Regions from separate parts of the Homo sapiens genome. Here region 2 is linked to region 1. Evidence: fine-mapped expression QTL. Tissue or cell type: whole blood. Region 1 holds a variant in brackets; the other region holds the start of a gene. All regions are shown on one strand. Distances are between the middles of the regions.

Region 1 (7,984 bases):
TTGGGGGTGTGTGTTGGTGTGTGAGTTGGGGGTGTGTGAGTGGGGTGTGTTGGGTGTGTGTGTGTTGGGTGTGTGCGTGTTGGGTGTGTGTGAGTGGTGTGTGTGTGTTGGGAGTGTGTGTGGGGTGAGTGGGATGTGTGTGTATGTTGGGGTGTGTGGGAGTGGGGTGTGTGTGTGCTTGTGTCATTCCCTTGGAGAATAATCCCTTCCAGAGCAGCCAAGGCCACCCCCAAGCCTGGAGCACATGGGATGCGGAAGGTTTGGGTAACTCCCTTTTTATGCCTAATTTGGAACTCTGTCAGAGTGGGAAAGTGGCAGTACGGATGGTGTTCCTTGAAAACATTGAAGGCAAATGAATAAACCCTTTGCCATCTGGGGCAAACAATAAACCCGCCCAAAGACAGAGGAAAAGCTAAGAATTGAGTTACTTGGGGGAATAAAATTTTGAAAAGTTTCCATGAATAATGAGGAATCTAGAAAGCCACACAAATGCTCGAGCAGGACGCACTCGAAAAAGACCTGAGAAGACCTCAGTGCAGGCTGGAAGGAAGGCTGAGTGTGGGAGGAGTGTCCCAACTCAGGGCCAGTCTACAGAGACTGAGAGAGTATTATTTTTTCTTTATTTTATTTTATTTTTTTTTGAGATGGAGTCTCACTCCTTTGCCCAGGCTGGAGTGCAGTGGCGCCATCTCAGCTCAACTGCAACCTTTGCCTCCCAGGTTCAAGTGATTGTCCTACTTCAGCCTCCGGAGTAGCTGGGACTACAGGCACCCGCCACCACGCCTGGCTAATTTTTTGTATTTTTGGTAGAGACGGGGTTTCACCATGTTGGCCAGGATGGTCTCGATCTCCTGACCTTGTGATCCACCCGCCTCGGCCTCCCAGAATGTTGGGATTACAGGCGTGAGCCACCATGCCTGGCCAGTTTTTTTTTTTCTTTTTTCTTTTCCATGTTTTGGCTGTAGGTGTTTAAGGAAATCTCTATCAAACTACTAATTGGCAACAAGCCAAAGGAACATAGACTTTATTTATTTATTTATTTATTTATTTTTTGTTTTATTTATTTATTTATTTATTTTTGAGATGGAGTTTCGCTCCTGTTGCCAAGCTAGGGTGCAATGGCGTGACCTTGGCTCACAGCAACCTCCACCTCCCGGGTTCAAGCGATTCTCCTGCCTCAGCCTCCCAGCTAGCTGGGATTACAGGCATGCACCACCATGTCTGGCTAATTTTGTATTTTTAGTAGAGACGGGGTTTCTCCATGTTGGTCAGGCTGGTCTTGAACTCCTGACTTCAGGTGCTCTGCCCACCTCAGCCTCCCAAAGTGCTGGGATTACGGGCGTGAGCCACCACGCCTGCCCTATTTTTTATTTATTTTTTAATGTTTTAAATTTTTTTACTAGTGGAAATCTGCTTGAATTTGTAAAATGTAGAGTTGACACAGAAGATGTGAAAAGAATGAAGACATTTTCTAGGGAATCTTGAACAAGAGAAAACCGACATGAACAAGAGAACAATAAAAGAGGCCAGGCGCGGTGGCTCACTGGGTGACTGTGAGATCCTTCCTCAAAGAGAGAGAGAGAGAAGGAAGGAAGGAAAGACAATAGGAAATGTTGATGAGGATGTGGAGAAATTGGAAGTGTTGTACAGTGTTGGTGGAAATGTTAAACGCTGCAGCCGTTAAGGAAGCAGCAAGGCAGTTGATCCAAAAGTTACGCATAAAATTATCCTAGGCCGGGCGCGGTGGCTCACACCTGTCATCCCAGCACTTTGGGAGGCTGAGGTGGGTGGATCACGAGGTCAGGAGATTGTGAACATCCTGGCCAACATGGTGAAACCCCGTCTCTACTAAAAATACAAAAAAAAAAATTAGCTGGGCGTGGTGGCGTATGCCTGTAATCCCAGCTACTTGGGCGGCTGAGGCAGGAGAATCACTTGAACCCGGGAGGGGGAGGTTTCAGTGAGCCGAGATCGCACCACTGCACTCCAGCCTGGCAACAGAGCGAGACTCACTCTCAAAACAAAGCAAACAAACCAAAAAAAAAACAAAAAAAGAATACGATATGGATCTGTGCTGTAGCCTGGATGGACCCCAAAAACATGCTAAATGAAAGAAGCCAGATACAAGAGGCCATGTATGATTCCTTTGATATGAAATATCCACGATAGACTCACCCATGGAGACAGAACACAGATTAGTGGTTGGCTGGGAGGAGTGGGGAGGAGGGAGTCATTGCTGTGGGATTTCTTTCTGGGATGAAGAAAATGGGAACTAGGGCCAGGCCCGGTGGCTTCTCACCTGTAATCCCAGCACATTGGGAGGCTGAGGCGGGTGGATCACTTGAGGTCAGGAGTTCAAGACCAACCTGACCAACATGGGGAAACCCCGTCTCTACTAAAAATACAAAAAGTAGCCGGGTGTGGTGGTGCTTGCCTGTAATCCCAGCTACTCAGGAGGTTGAGGCAGGAGAATTGCTTGAACCTAGGAGGCAGAGGTTGCAGTGAGCCGAGATTGAGACACCGCACTCCAGCCTGGGCGACAGTGAGACTCTGTCTCAAAAAAAAAAAAAAAAAAAAAAGCCTAAATATCCACATATCCACACATGAGAGAAGTTCAGAGTGAATACACAGGTGAATGCCGATGGGTTGTCTCTGGTGATGAGTTTACAGGGGCTTTTGCGCATTTTCCCAATCCCACAGGGAGCCTATTGAATTCTGAAGCTGAGAGCAGTGTATGCGTGAACGGTGCTCTAAGCGCAGACGCCGCATTCTAACCATGGTGAGGAGGGTGCTAGGAGCCAAGGGAGGCGGCCCCAGAAGCTGAGACAGCGAGCTGCGTGGCCAGCCTCACCCTGCAGCAGAGTCAGGTGGTCAGTCCTCACCTGCAGTCATGGGGTGGGTGGAGAGGGAAAGGGCGCACAGAGAGGGGCCCGCGCCTGTCCCTTGGCACAGCCATCCTCCACTTGGCCTCTCCTTTGGTGGCCGCTGGTTGCTGACTAACAGGGTGTCCTTTGTGCATTCTTCCTCTGGAGAGGCTACTGGGCTTGGCTGCTGGGTTGTACTTCCTGTGGTGAGGGAAGAGGAGACTGCCGGAGCCAGGGGTCATTTGGGTTGGAGGCATCGGCAGGCCAGGAGGCTGCTGGTGGAGCTTCCTTTCCTCAGCTTCCTGCTGGGCGTCTTGCTGTGAGGTCTCCCGGCGATGCCCGGTGTGGTGTGGAAGGGAGGTGTCGGATGAGCATGCCCGCTACAGGGCCAGACTGCCCGCCTCCGCCTCTAGGGGCTTGGGAGGCCTGGCCTGGCTGGCCCTGGGGTGCCCGGGCCTGCCTATACCTTCTGGGTCGGTCTCTGCAGTGCATCTGTGCTCTGAGCACAAGCCAAGGCATTCGTGTGGAGGCCCGGGGCGCCGGGAGCCTGGTAGGGTGCTGGGAGCTTGGCAGGGTGCCGTGAGCCTGGCAGGGTGCCGCCTCTGGTGTGGGCAGTTCTCCTCTTACGTGGACTTGTCCTGCACGTCTGCAGGAGCTGCTTCTTCGTCTTCCCACACCCTCCTGCCCATGGGCCCTGGAGGCAGACGGTGCTGGGAAGCTGGTCAGTGCCCACATGTGGGTGTCCCTGCCTGGGCCTTCCCAAGAGGAGGTGGCCCCTGAGGTGGGGTCTTTGCGAGTCTACTGGAGCTGTGCGTGGGGTGCACAGCCCTGCCCTGTCTGAAGGGGGTCGTGTTTCAACAGGGAGCTACATCAGAGGTTTTGGTAGATGCTGCTGTAGACCTCATATCCGATGAATGGGAAGCTGCTAATGCCATACCCAGCAAGAGAAGGAAGCAGGATGCAGCCCCGCTTGAGGCCGCCAGCGTGCCTTCTGCAGACTGTGAGCAGGTAGTCCGAGTCAATAGTTTGGGCAGAATGCTCCCTGCCCTGGTGCATGCTGGCACAGCCTGGCACGGCCACCTCGCACTTCCGGCCCTTGAGTCCCTGCCAGTCGAGGAAGGCTGCCCAGGATGGGCGTTTTCGGGTCACCCTTGGGCTGTGAAAGAGCAACGCTGATTCAGGCTTGGCTCTTGTGACTCTGAGGATGTTTTGCTAGTGGTGAATTTCAGCTTTATTGTGCTTGCCCTTCTGGCCCACATCCTTCCACTTGCCTTTTTACTCC[G/A]TGCAGCTGTCCCCTTGGACACCTGGAGAAACTTAACCTGGCTGCACTCACCTGGCTAAAGCTCCACCAGCAACACAGGCTTCACCACAGAGAGCAGCAGGGGAGCCCAAGGGGGCTTAGAGGGCCAGGCCCAGGCAGGTGGGGGCCCGACCCAGCCTCTGCCTGAACACAAGGTCTTGGATGGCGCTCGCCACGTGGGGGTGTAGTGGAAGCCCTGCTCAGTTTAGTCTCTGGTTTTTGGAAGTTGAAATCCTGACTTTTTCTCTTTTTCTTTTCTTTCTTTCTTTCTTTTTTTTTTGAGACAGAGTCTCGCTCTGTCGCCCAAGCTGGAGTGCAGTGGCACGATCTCAGTTCACTGCAACCTCCGCGTGCAGGGTTCAAGCGATTCTCCTGCCTCACCCTCCTGAGTAGCTGGGATTACAGGCACCTGCCACCACGCCCGGCTACTTTTTTTGTGTATTTTTAGTAGAGACGGGGTTTCACCATGTTGGCCAGGCTGGTCTCGAACTCCTGGCCTCAAATGATCCACCCATCTTGGCCTTCCAAAATGCTGGGATTACAGACGTGAGCCACTGTGCCTGCCCCAAATCCTGACTTTTTCTATAGCATTTAGGAGTATTACAGGACTCACTAATAATATCAAAAATGAAATTAGGTAACACATGTAATGAAAGGACTTTTGCTTTTGGGGAAAAGCAAGGGAGCTTCATACCTTGAAGAGTGATGCTTGTGAAGTTTATTACTTTTTTGCAGAGGGCGACGGCCTCCCTGCCTTCCCCGCACCGCGCTCCCCCCAGCCCCTGCCCATCGAGATGGTCATGTGTTCATTGAACGGAGACTTACCGAGCATCCACCACGCCTAGGTCTTAAGTGTAGGCAGAAGCCTTCAAGGCAGGCATGCTCTTTCCTCTGTGGGCTGGGGCTTGGCCGTGAGCCCACTCCTGCAGCTCCTGGGAAATGCAGGCAGCGTCCACACGGGGCTGGACTTAGCCAGACCTAAGGCACAGTGTGGGTGGAGAGCTCATTCACAATAGCAACAAAAATGTGAGAAGGAACTTGTAAAATAAAGGATGGATTCATAGGCCATGCGAGGAGAAGAAGGCTCGGGCTCAGCAGACAGTGAAGTCCGTGGAGAGGTGGGCCCTTCCCCAGAGAGAACATGGAAGGTTTAGCACTGCAGAGATGTCTGCTGTCACCCAGAATGACACGGGAACTTAACCAACTAATTAATGTATAACAGTAGTATAGCTCTGAATGGGTTTGGTGGGTTTTGTTTTTGTTTGTTTTGAGGCAGGGTCTCGCCCTGGGTCCCAGGCTGGAGCGCAGTGGCAAAATCATAGCTCACTGCAGCCTTGACTTCCTGGGCTCAAGCAATCCTCGTGCCTCAGCCTCCCGAGTAGCTGGGACTACAGGCGTGCACCACCACACCCAATTAATTTTTAAAATTTTTGGTAGAGATGGGGTCTTGCTGTGTTACCCACGCTGGTCTCAAACTCCTGGGCTCAAGCAATTCTCCCGCCCCAGCCTCCCAAAGTGCAGGGATTACAGGCATAAACCACCACCCTAGCCTCGTTTTGTATTTTTGGAAGTTGACAGATTTTAAACTATAAATTGGTGAGGATACTTAACAGATGTGAGGAGGAGAAATGGATGGGAGATTTATAGTAAAGCTGTCAACGTACACGGGTGGAAACATTCCCACGGAGTAACAGAGGCGCGACCTGGGGATGCGCACGGAGCATGAGATGTGAGCTGGAGTTAGGGCACTGCATATGCGGACCGGAGCGTGTTGGTCAGGGTGTATACACGGGTGTGGAAAGTGGGGTGTCTAGACCATGGGCTCAGCATTTGGGTAAAACACACACACTCCACTCACCCCAGTCACACACACCCCCCGCCACACATACCCCACTCACACATACCCCACTCACACCACTCACACACACCCCCACACCCCACTCACACCACTCACACACACCCCCACACATACCCTCCACACACACATACCCCACTCACACCACTCACACACACCCCCACACACACCCCACTCACACACACCTCAACACACATACCCCACTCACACCACTCACACTCCCCCCCACACACATACCCTCCACACACACATACCCCACTCACACCACTCACACACGCCCCCACACACACACCCCACTCACACACACCTCAACACACACACACACCCCACTCACACCACTTACACACCCCCAAGACAAACACCCCATTCACACCACTCACACACCCTGCAACATACACCCCACTCACAACACTCACACACCCCCCAACATACATACACCCCACTCACACACACACCCCAACACACACATGCCCCACTCATACCACTCACACACCCCCCAAGACAAACGCCCCACTCACACCACTCACACACTGCCAACACACACAGCCAACTCACACCACTCACACACACCCCCAACACACACTCCCCACTCACCCCACTCACACACACCCCAACATACGCAAGTCCCACTCACACCCATCTCATACTCACACTGAAACACACAGTGGTCCCTTGTTGCCCACAGGGGGTCGGTTCCAGGACCGCGGAGGACGCCAAAATCCAAGGATGCCCAGTCCCAGATATGAAACGGCGTGGCATTGGTACATAACCCACAGCATCCGCCTGTACACTTAATTTTTTATTTTTTTTATTTTTTGAGACGGATTCTCTCTCTTTTGCCCAGGCTGGAGTGCAATGGCGTGATCTCGGCTCCCTGCAACCTCCGCCTCCTGGGTTCAAGCGAGTCCCCTGCCTCAGCCTCCCGAGCAGCTGGGACTATAGGCGCCTGCCACCACACCTGGCTAATTTTTGTATTTTTAGTAGAGATGGGGTTTTGCCATGTTGGCTAGGCTGGTTTCAAGCTCCTGACCTCAAGGAATCCGCCTGCCTTGACCTCCCAAAGTATTGGGATAACAGGCCTGAGCCACTGAGGCCGGCCCCCGACACCATGCACTTTAATTCATCTCTAGATTCCTTACCACAGGCATCTGTATGACATAGATGCTGTATGAACAGTTGCTACACGGTGCGGTGTTGCTCTTTGTGTTCTTTGTTATTGTTGTCTCGTTATTTTCTGTTTTCTTCCCCAGTATTTTCTGTCTGTGGTTGGCTGAATCTGTGGCTGCAGAGGGCCGACTGTATACCAGCTTGATTCAATATTTTATTTTTATTTTTTATTTATTATTGTTATTATTTTTTGAGATGGAGTCTCACTCTGTCGCCCAGGCCGGAGTGCAGTGGCACAATCTCGGCTCACTGCAAGCTCCGCCTCCCAGGTTCACGCCATTCTCCTGCCTCAGCCTCCCGAGTAGCTGGGACTACAGGCGCCCACCACCACGCCCAGCCAATTTTTTTGTATTTTTGTAGAGATGGGGTTTCACCGTGTTAGCCAGGATGGTCTGGATCTCCTGACCTTGTGATCCACCCGCCTCGGTCTCCCAAAGTGCTGGGATTACAGGCGTGAGCCACTGCACCCGGCCTATTATTACTATTTTTCAAGGCAGAGTGTTGCTCTGTCTCCCAGGCTGGAGTGCAGTGGTGCAATCTTGGCTCACTGCAACCTCTGCCTCCTAGGTTCAAGTGATTTCTCCTGCCTCAGCCTCTAGAGTAGCTGGGATTACAGGTGTGTGCCACCACGCCTGGCTAATTTTTGTATTTTTAGTAGAGATGGGGTTTCCCCATGTTGGCCAGGCTGGTCTCGAACTCCTGACCTCAGGTGATCCGCCCGCCTCGTTCTCTCAAAGTGCTGGGATTACAGGTGTGAGCCACCACGCCTGGCCTGATTCAATATTTTAATGTAAAACA
Region 2 (5,117 bases), 180 kb before region 1:
GTAGTCCCAGCTACTCAGGAGGCTGAGACAGGATAATGGCGTGAACCCGGGAGGCGGAGCTTGCAGTGAGCCGAGATCGCACCGCTGCACTCCAGCCTGGGCGACAGAGCAAGACTCCATCTCAAAAAAAAAAAAGAATGCCTCCTAGATGGTGATGATGGGTGACCCATAAAGCACCGACCCAGTGCCTCTCAGCCTCTTCCCTGAGATCCAGGGGCGCAACACCTTCACGCCGTCCCTTTTCAGGCGTAGGTCTCGCCTCCTCTTCGGCATTTCCTGGAATCTGAGTTTGTGGGGGGCCAGCAGGTGTCTTTCTTCTGGTTTGCATAGCCCTATATGGAGTCTCTTTTCCTACCCAGAACCTTTCAGAGATCGTGGCCCTGCAGACACGCCTTAAGCACCTGCAGGCTGTGAAGGAGGGGCGCTACGTGTTCCTGTTCCGCTCCAAGCAGTCCCTAGTGCTGGAGCGCCAGCGCCTGGACAAGCGACTGGCTCTCATCGCCACCATCCTGGACCGCGTGCGGGACGAGTACCCCCAGTTCCAGGAGGCCCTGCACAAGGTCAGCCAGATGATCGCCAACAAGCTCGAGTCACCAGGGCCCTCCTAGGGAGCAGCCTGGACTCCGCCTTGCAAGGCCTCCAGGAAGAGATCCGGAATTGTGTTTGTCATGAGGGACTTGGAATCTTTTGTGTTCCTAAAAACCACATGTACCCTCAGAAGGGCATCGTTTAAGAGAAATAAGCCAGCCCCACCCATAGGAATCTTTTTAGCCACTCAGCAATTTAATAAACCAGGTAAAATCCTAGCGTTTCCCATGGCATCCCATCGCAAAGACAGAGCCTGTGACTGCAGACCCACACACCCACACTCCCACACTGGGCTTACTCGTCCAGGTAACACTTTGGTTTGCAGCACTCCCAAATCTGCACGTGCCTCTCACAACACAACGCTGCCACAGGTCCACAAGCTGGTGGGCTGAGCAGAGGTGGGAAAGTTAAGGCAGCTCCAGCCAGCCTGGCCCGGGAGGCTGGTCCCCCCAGCACTTCCCTCTACTAGGTGCATCTGAAAACCCACAAACCACCTTCTTTACCAGTTTTCCCATCCCCACCCCTTAGAACTCTCAGGTCCCTTTTCCTGCCCCCATGTCCCCATTTGAGTTAAATTCAGATCCACAGCTTGCAGGAGAAAGTCAGTGGCCCCAGACACACGTAACAGGGTGAGCACTGAAATAAGAGCACGCTGGGGCGTCCACACCAAGGGACTACGCCCCAGTCTGCCCACCTATCTTTTCTCCATCATTAACCCAGCGCTCTTTCTCCCTGGACTTCCAAGTACCAATGACCTTGGGGCTTCTTTGCAGTTTAAAGGGAAAATGCTCTACAAAATAATTTCACTTTCAAACATTTCAGCAGAAGAATAAAATCTTTTTTCTGAATATCTAGTAAGCCTTTCTGAGTCAGCCTTACTTATTTTAAAACATTGTAGAAATACAGAAACCACAACAGAGGTGGAAGGGAGGCTTTTGTTTTTTTTTTTTTGAGACGGAGTCTCGCTCTGTCGCCCAGGCTGGAGTGCAGTGGCGCGGTCTCGGCTCGCTGCAAGCTGGAAAGGGGGCTTTTAATGCCCCTATGCCCCTACCCAGGAACAACACCTCTGTGTTTTGGTGTGGCTCCTTTTGTATTTTTCTGCACATACATTTTATTAGGCAAGTTAAGGTTATACTGTGTGTTTTTTGTATCTCACATGTAAAAATGTGCTCCTCTTAATGTAAGCATTTTCTCATTTTATGAAAAAATTCCCCCTGTGTCAGTTTAATGTTTTCTCAATTGTCAGTTTTATGGGTTATCACAATGTTTTGATTATTCCTTTCTGGAATAACTGTGAGTTATGGAGCACACTTAAGGACTTTCCAAATGTTGGCTGTTTCTAACTTGGCGCTGAGCGCCTTTGGCCGCCTTTCCGATGATGCCCTCGGGACGCGTTGGCAGGAGGAATCCCTGGGCGCAAGGCGCGGCTGGGCCAGCCCCTTACAAAGCCCTACGAGCTGCGGGGACCCAGGCCGGGGCAGCGGGGGCCACGCCCCATCTCCGACCCCACGGGGACCGGGCCGGGACTGCGCCAGCGGGGGCCTCGCCCCGTCTCTGACCCCAGAGGAACCGGCAGCGGGCAGCACGCGTGGGCCTCTCCCCGCGGGACGCCGGACGCGCAGCCAGACGCGCTCCCCAGGCCCCCTCCGAGAGCGAGGACGCGCCCAGGCCCGCTCTGCCGGAGCCGCCACTGGGGGGCGTAGCGCGGACGCGCACCCTTGCCTCGGGCGCCTGCGCGGGAGGCCGCGTCACGTGACCCACCGCGGCCCCGCCCCGCGACGAGCTCCCGCCGGTCACGTGACCCGCCTCTGCGCGCCCCCGGGCACGACCCCGGAGTCTCCGCGGGCGGCCAGGGCGCGCGTGCGCGGAGGTGAGCCGGGCCGGGGCTGCGGGGCTTCCCTGAGCGCGGGCCGGGTCGGTGGGGCGGTCGGCTGCCCGCGCGGCCTCTCAGTTGGGAAAGCTGAGGTTGTCGCCGGGGCCGCGGGTGGAGGTCGGGGATGAGGCAGCAGGTAGGACAGTGACCTCGGTGACGCGAAGGACCCCGGCCACCTCTAGGTTCTCCTCGTCCGCCCGTTGTTCAGCGAGGGAGGCTCTGCGCGTGCCGCAGCTGACGGGGAAACTGAGGCACGGAGCGGGTGAGACACCTGACGTCTGCCCCGCGCTGCCGGCGGTAACATCCCAGAAGCGGGTTTGAACGTGCCTAGCCGTGCCCCCAGCCTCTTCCCCTGAGCGGAGCTTGAGCCCCAGACCTCTAGTCCTCCCGGTCTTTATCTGAGTTCAGCTTAGAGATGAACGGGGAGCCGCCCTCCTGTGCTGGGCTTGGGGCTGGAGGCTGCATCTTCCCGTTTCTAGGGTTTCCTTTCCCCTTTTGATCGACGCAGTGCTCAGTCCTGGCCGGGACCCGAGCCACCTCTCCTGCTCCTGCAGGACGCACATGGCTGGGTCTGAATCCCTGGGGTGAGGAGCACCGTGGCCTGAGAGGGGGCCCCTGGGCCAGCTCTGAAATCTGAATGTCTCAATCACAAAGACCCCCTTAGGCCAGGCCAGGGGTGACTGTCTCTGGTCTTTGTCCCTGGTTGCTGGCACATAGCACCCGAAACCCTTGGAAACCGAGTGATGAGAGAGCCTTTTGCTCATGAGGTGACTGATGACCGGGGACACCAGGTGGCTTCAGGATGGAAGCAGATGGCCAGAAAGACCAAGGCCTGATGACGGGTTGGGATGGAAAAGGGGTGAGGGGCTGGAGATTGAGTGAATCACCAGTGGCTTAGTCAACCATGCCTGCACAATGGAACCCCGTAAGAAACCACAGGGATCAGAGGGCTTCCCGCCGGGTTGTGGAACACACCAAGGCACTGGAGGGTGGTGCGAGCAGAGAGCACAGCATCACTGCCCCCACCTCACACCAGGCCCTACGCATCTCTTCCATACGGCTGTCTGAGTTTTATCCTTTGTAATAAACCAGCAACTGTAAGAAACGCACTTTCCTGAGTTCTGTGACCCTGAAGAGGGAGTCCTGGGAACCTCTGAATTTATAACTAGTTGATCGAAAGTACAAGTGACAACCTGGGATTTGCCATTGGCCTCTGAAGTGAAGGCAGTGTTGTGGGACTGAGCCCTTAACCTGTGGAGTCTGTGCTGACTCCAGGTAGTGTCAAGATTGAATTGAATTGTAGGACACCCAGCCGTGTCCAGAAAGTTGCAGAATTGATGGGTGTGAGAAAAACCCTACACATTTAATGTCAGAAGTGTGGGTAAAATGTTTCACCCTCCAGCCCAGAGAGCCCTAATTTACCAGTGGCCCACGGTGGAACACCACGTCCGGCCGGGGGCAGAGCGTTCCCAGCCAAGCCTTCTGTAACATGACATGACAGGTCAGACTCCCTCGGGCCCTGAGTTCACTTCTTCCTGGTATGTGACCAGCTCCCAGTACCAGAGAAGGTTGCACAGTCCTCTGCTCCAAGGAGCTTCACTGGCCAGGGGCTGCTTTCTGAAATCCTTGCCTGCCTCTGCTCCAAGGCCCGTTCCTCAGAGACGCAGACCCCTCTGATGGCTGACTTTGGTTTGAGGACCTCTCTGCATCCCTCCCCCATGGCCTTGCTCCTAGGACACCTTCTTCCTCCTTTCCCTGGGGTCAGACTTGCCTAGGTGCGGTGGCTCTCCCAGCCTTCCCCACGCCCTCCCCATGGTGTATTACACACACCAAAGGGACTCCCCTATTGAAATCCATGCATATTGAATCGCATGTGGGTTCCGGCTGCTCCTGGGAGGAGCCAGGCTAATAGAATGTTTGCCATAAAATATTAATGTACAGAGAAGCGAAACAAAGGTCGTTGGTACTTGTTAACCTTACCAGCAGAATAATGAAAGCGAACCCCCATATCTCATCTGCACGCGACATCCTTGTTGTGTCTGTACCCGAGGCTCCAGGTGCAGCCACTGTTACAGAGACTGTGTTTCTTCCCCATGTACCTCGGGGGCCGGGAGGGGTTCTGATCTGCAAAGTCGCCAGAGGTTAAGTCCTTTCTCTCTTGTGGCTTTGCCACCCCTGGAGTGTCACCCTCAGCTGCGGTGCCCAGGATTCCCCACTGTGGTATGTCCGTGCACCAGTCAATAGGAAAGGGAGCAAGGAAAGGTACTGGGTCCCCCTAAGGACATACGAGTTGCCAGAATCACTTCCGCTGACACCCAGTGGACCAAGCCGCACCTTTATGCAGAAGTGGGGCTCCCAGCCAGGCGTGGTCACTCCTGAAATCCCAGCACTTCGGAAGGCCAAGGGGGGTGGATCACTTGAGCTCAGGAGTTCGAGACCAGCCTGGGTAACATGGCAAAATCCCGTCTCTACAAAAATACAGAAAATTAGCTGGGTGCGGTGGTGTGTGCCTACAGTCCCAGCTACTCAGGAGGCTGAAGTGGGAGGATTGCTTGAGTCTGGGAGGTGGAGGTTGCAGTGAGCCAGGATCTCACCACAGCACTCTGGCCCAGGCGACAGCTGTTTGGCCTGTTTCAAGTGTCTACCTGCCTTGCTG

What was found. PIP is the estimated chance that this variant, and not a neighbour inherited with it, causes the effect.
Region 2: it holds the start of GAA, and the variant in region 1 is fine-mapped to the expression of GAA in whole blood (TwinsUK, PIP 0.95).

What each region holds. Positions count from the first base shown.
Region 1 is chr17:80,275,039-80,283,022 of GRCh38, forward strand. All of the region lies in intron 3 of RNF213 (ring finger protein 213), which reads left to right. Among named protein-coding and RNA genes, the nearest start is that of RNF213, 18 kb to the left of the region's middle. RefSeq lists an enhancer at 2,984-3,602. The variant G/A (reference allele first, on the strand shown) is at 4,147.
Region 2 is chr17:80,099,168-80,104,284 of GRCh38, forward strand. GAA (alpha glucosidase) reads left to right here and starts at 2,414. Exons shown (of 20, transcript NM_000152.5): 1 at 2,414-2,723. CCDC40 (coiled-coil domain 40 molecular ruler complex subunit) reads left to right here. Exons shown (of 20, transcript NM_017950.4): 20 at 360-1,446. The coding sequence ends at 608. RefSeq lists a silencer at 1,961-2,580 and an enhancer at 2,911-3,020.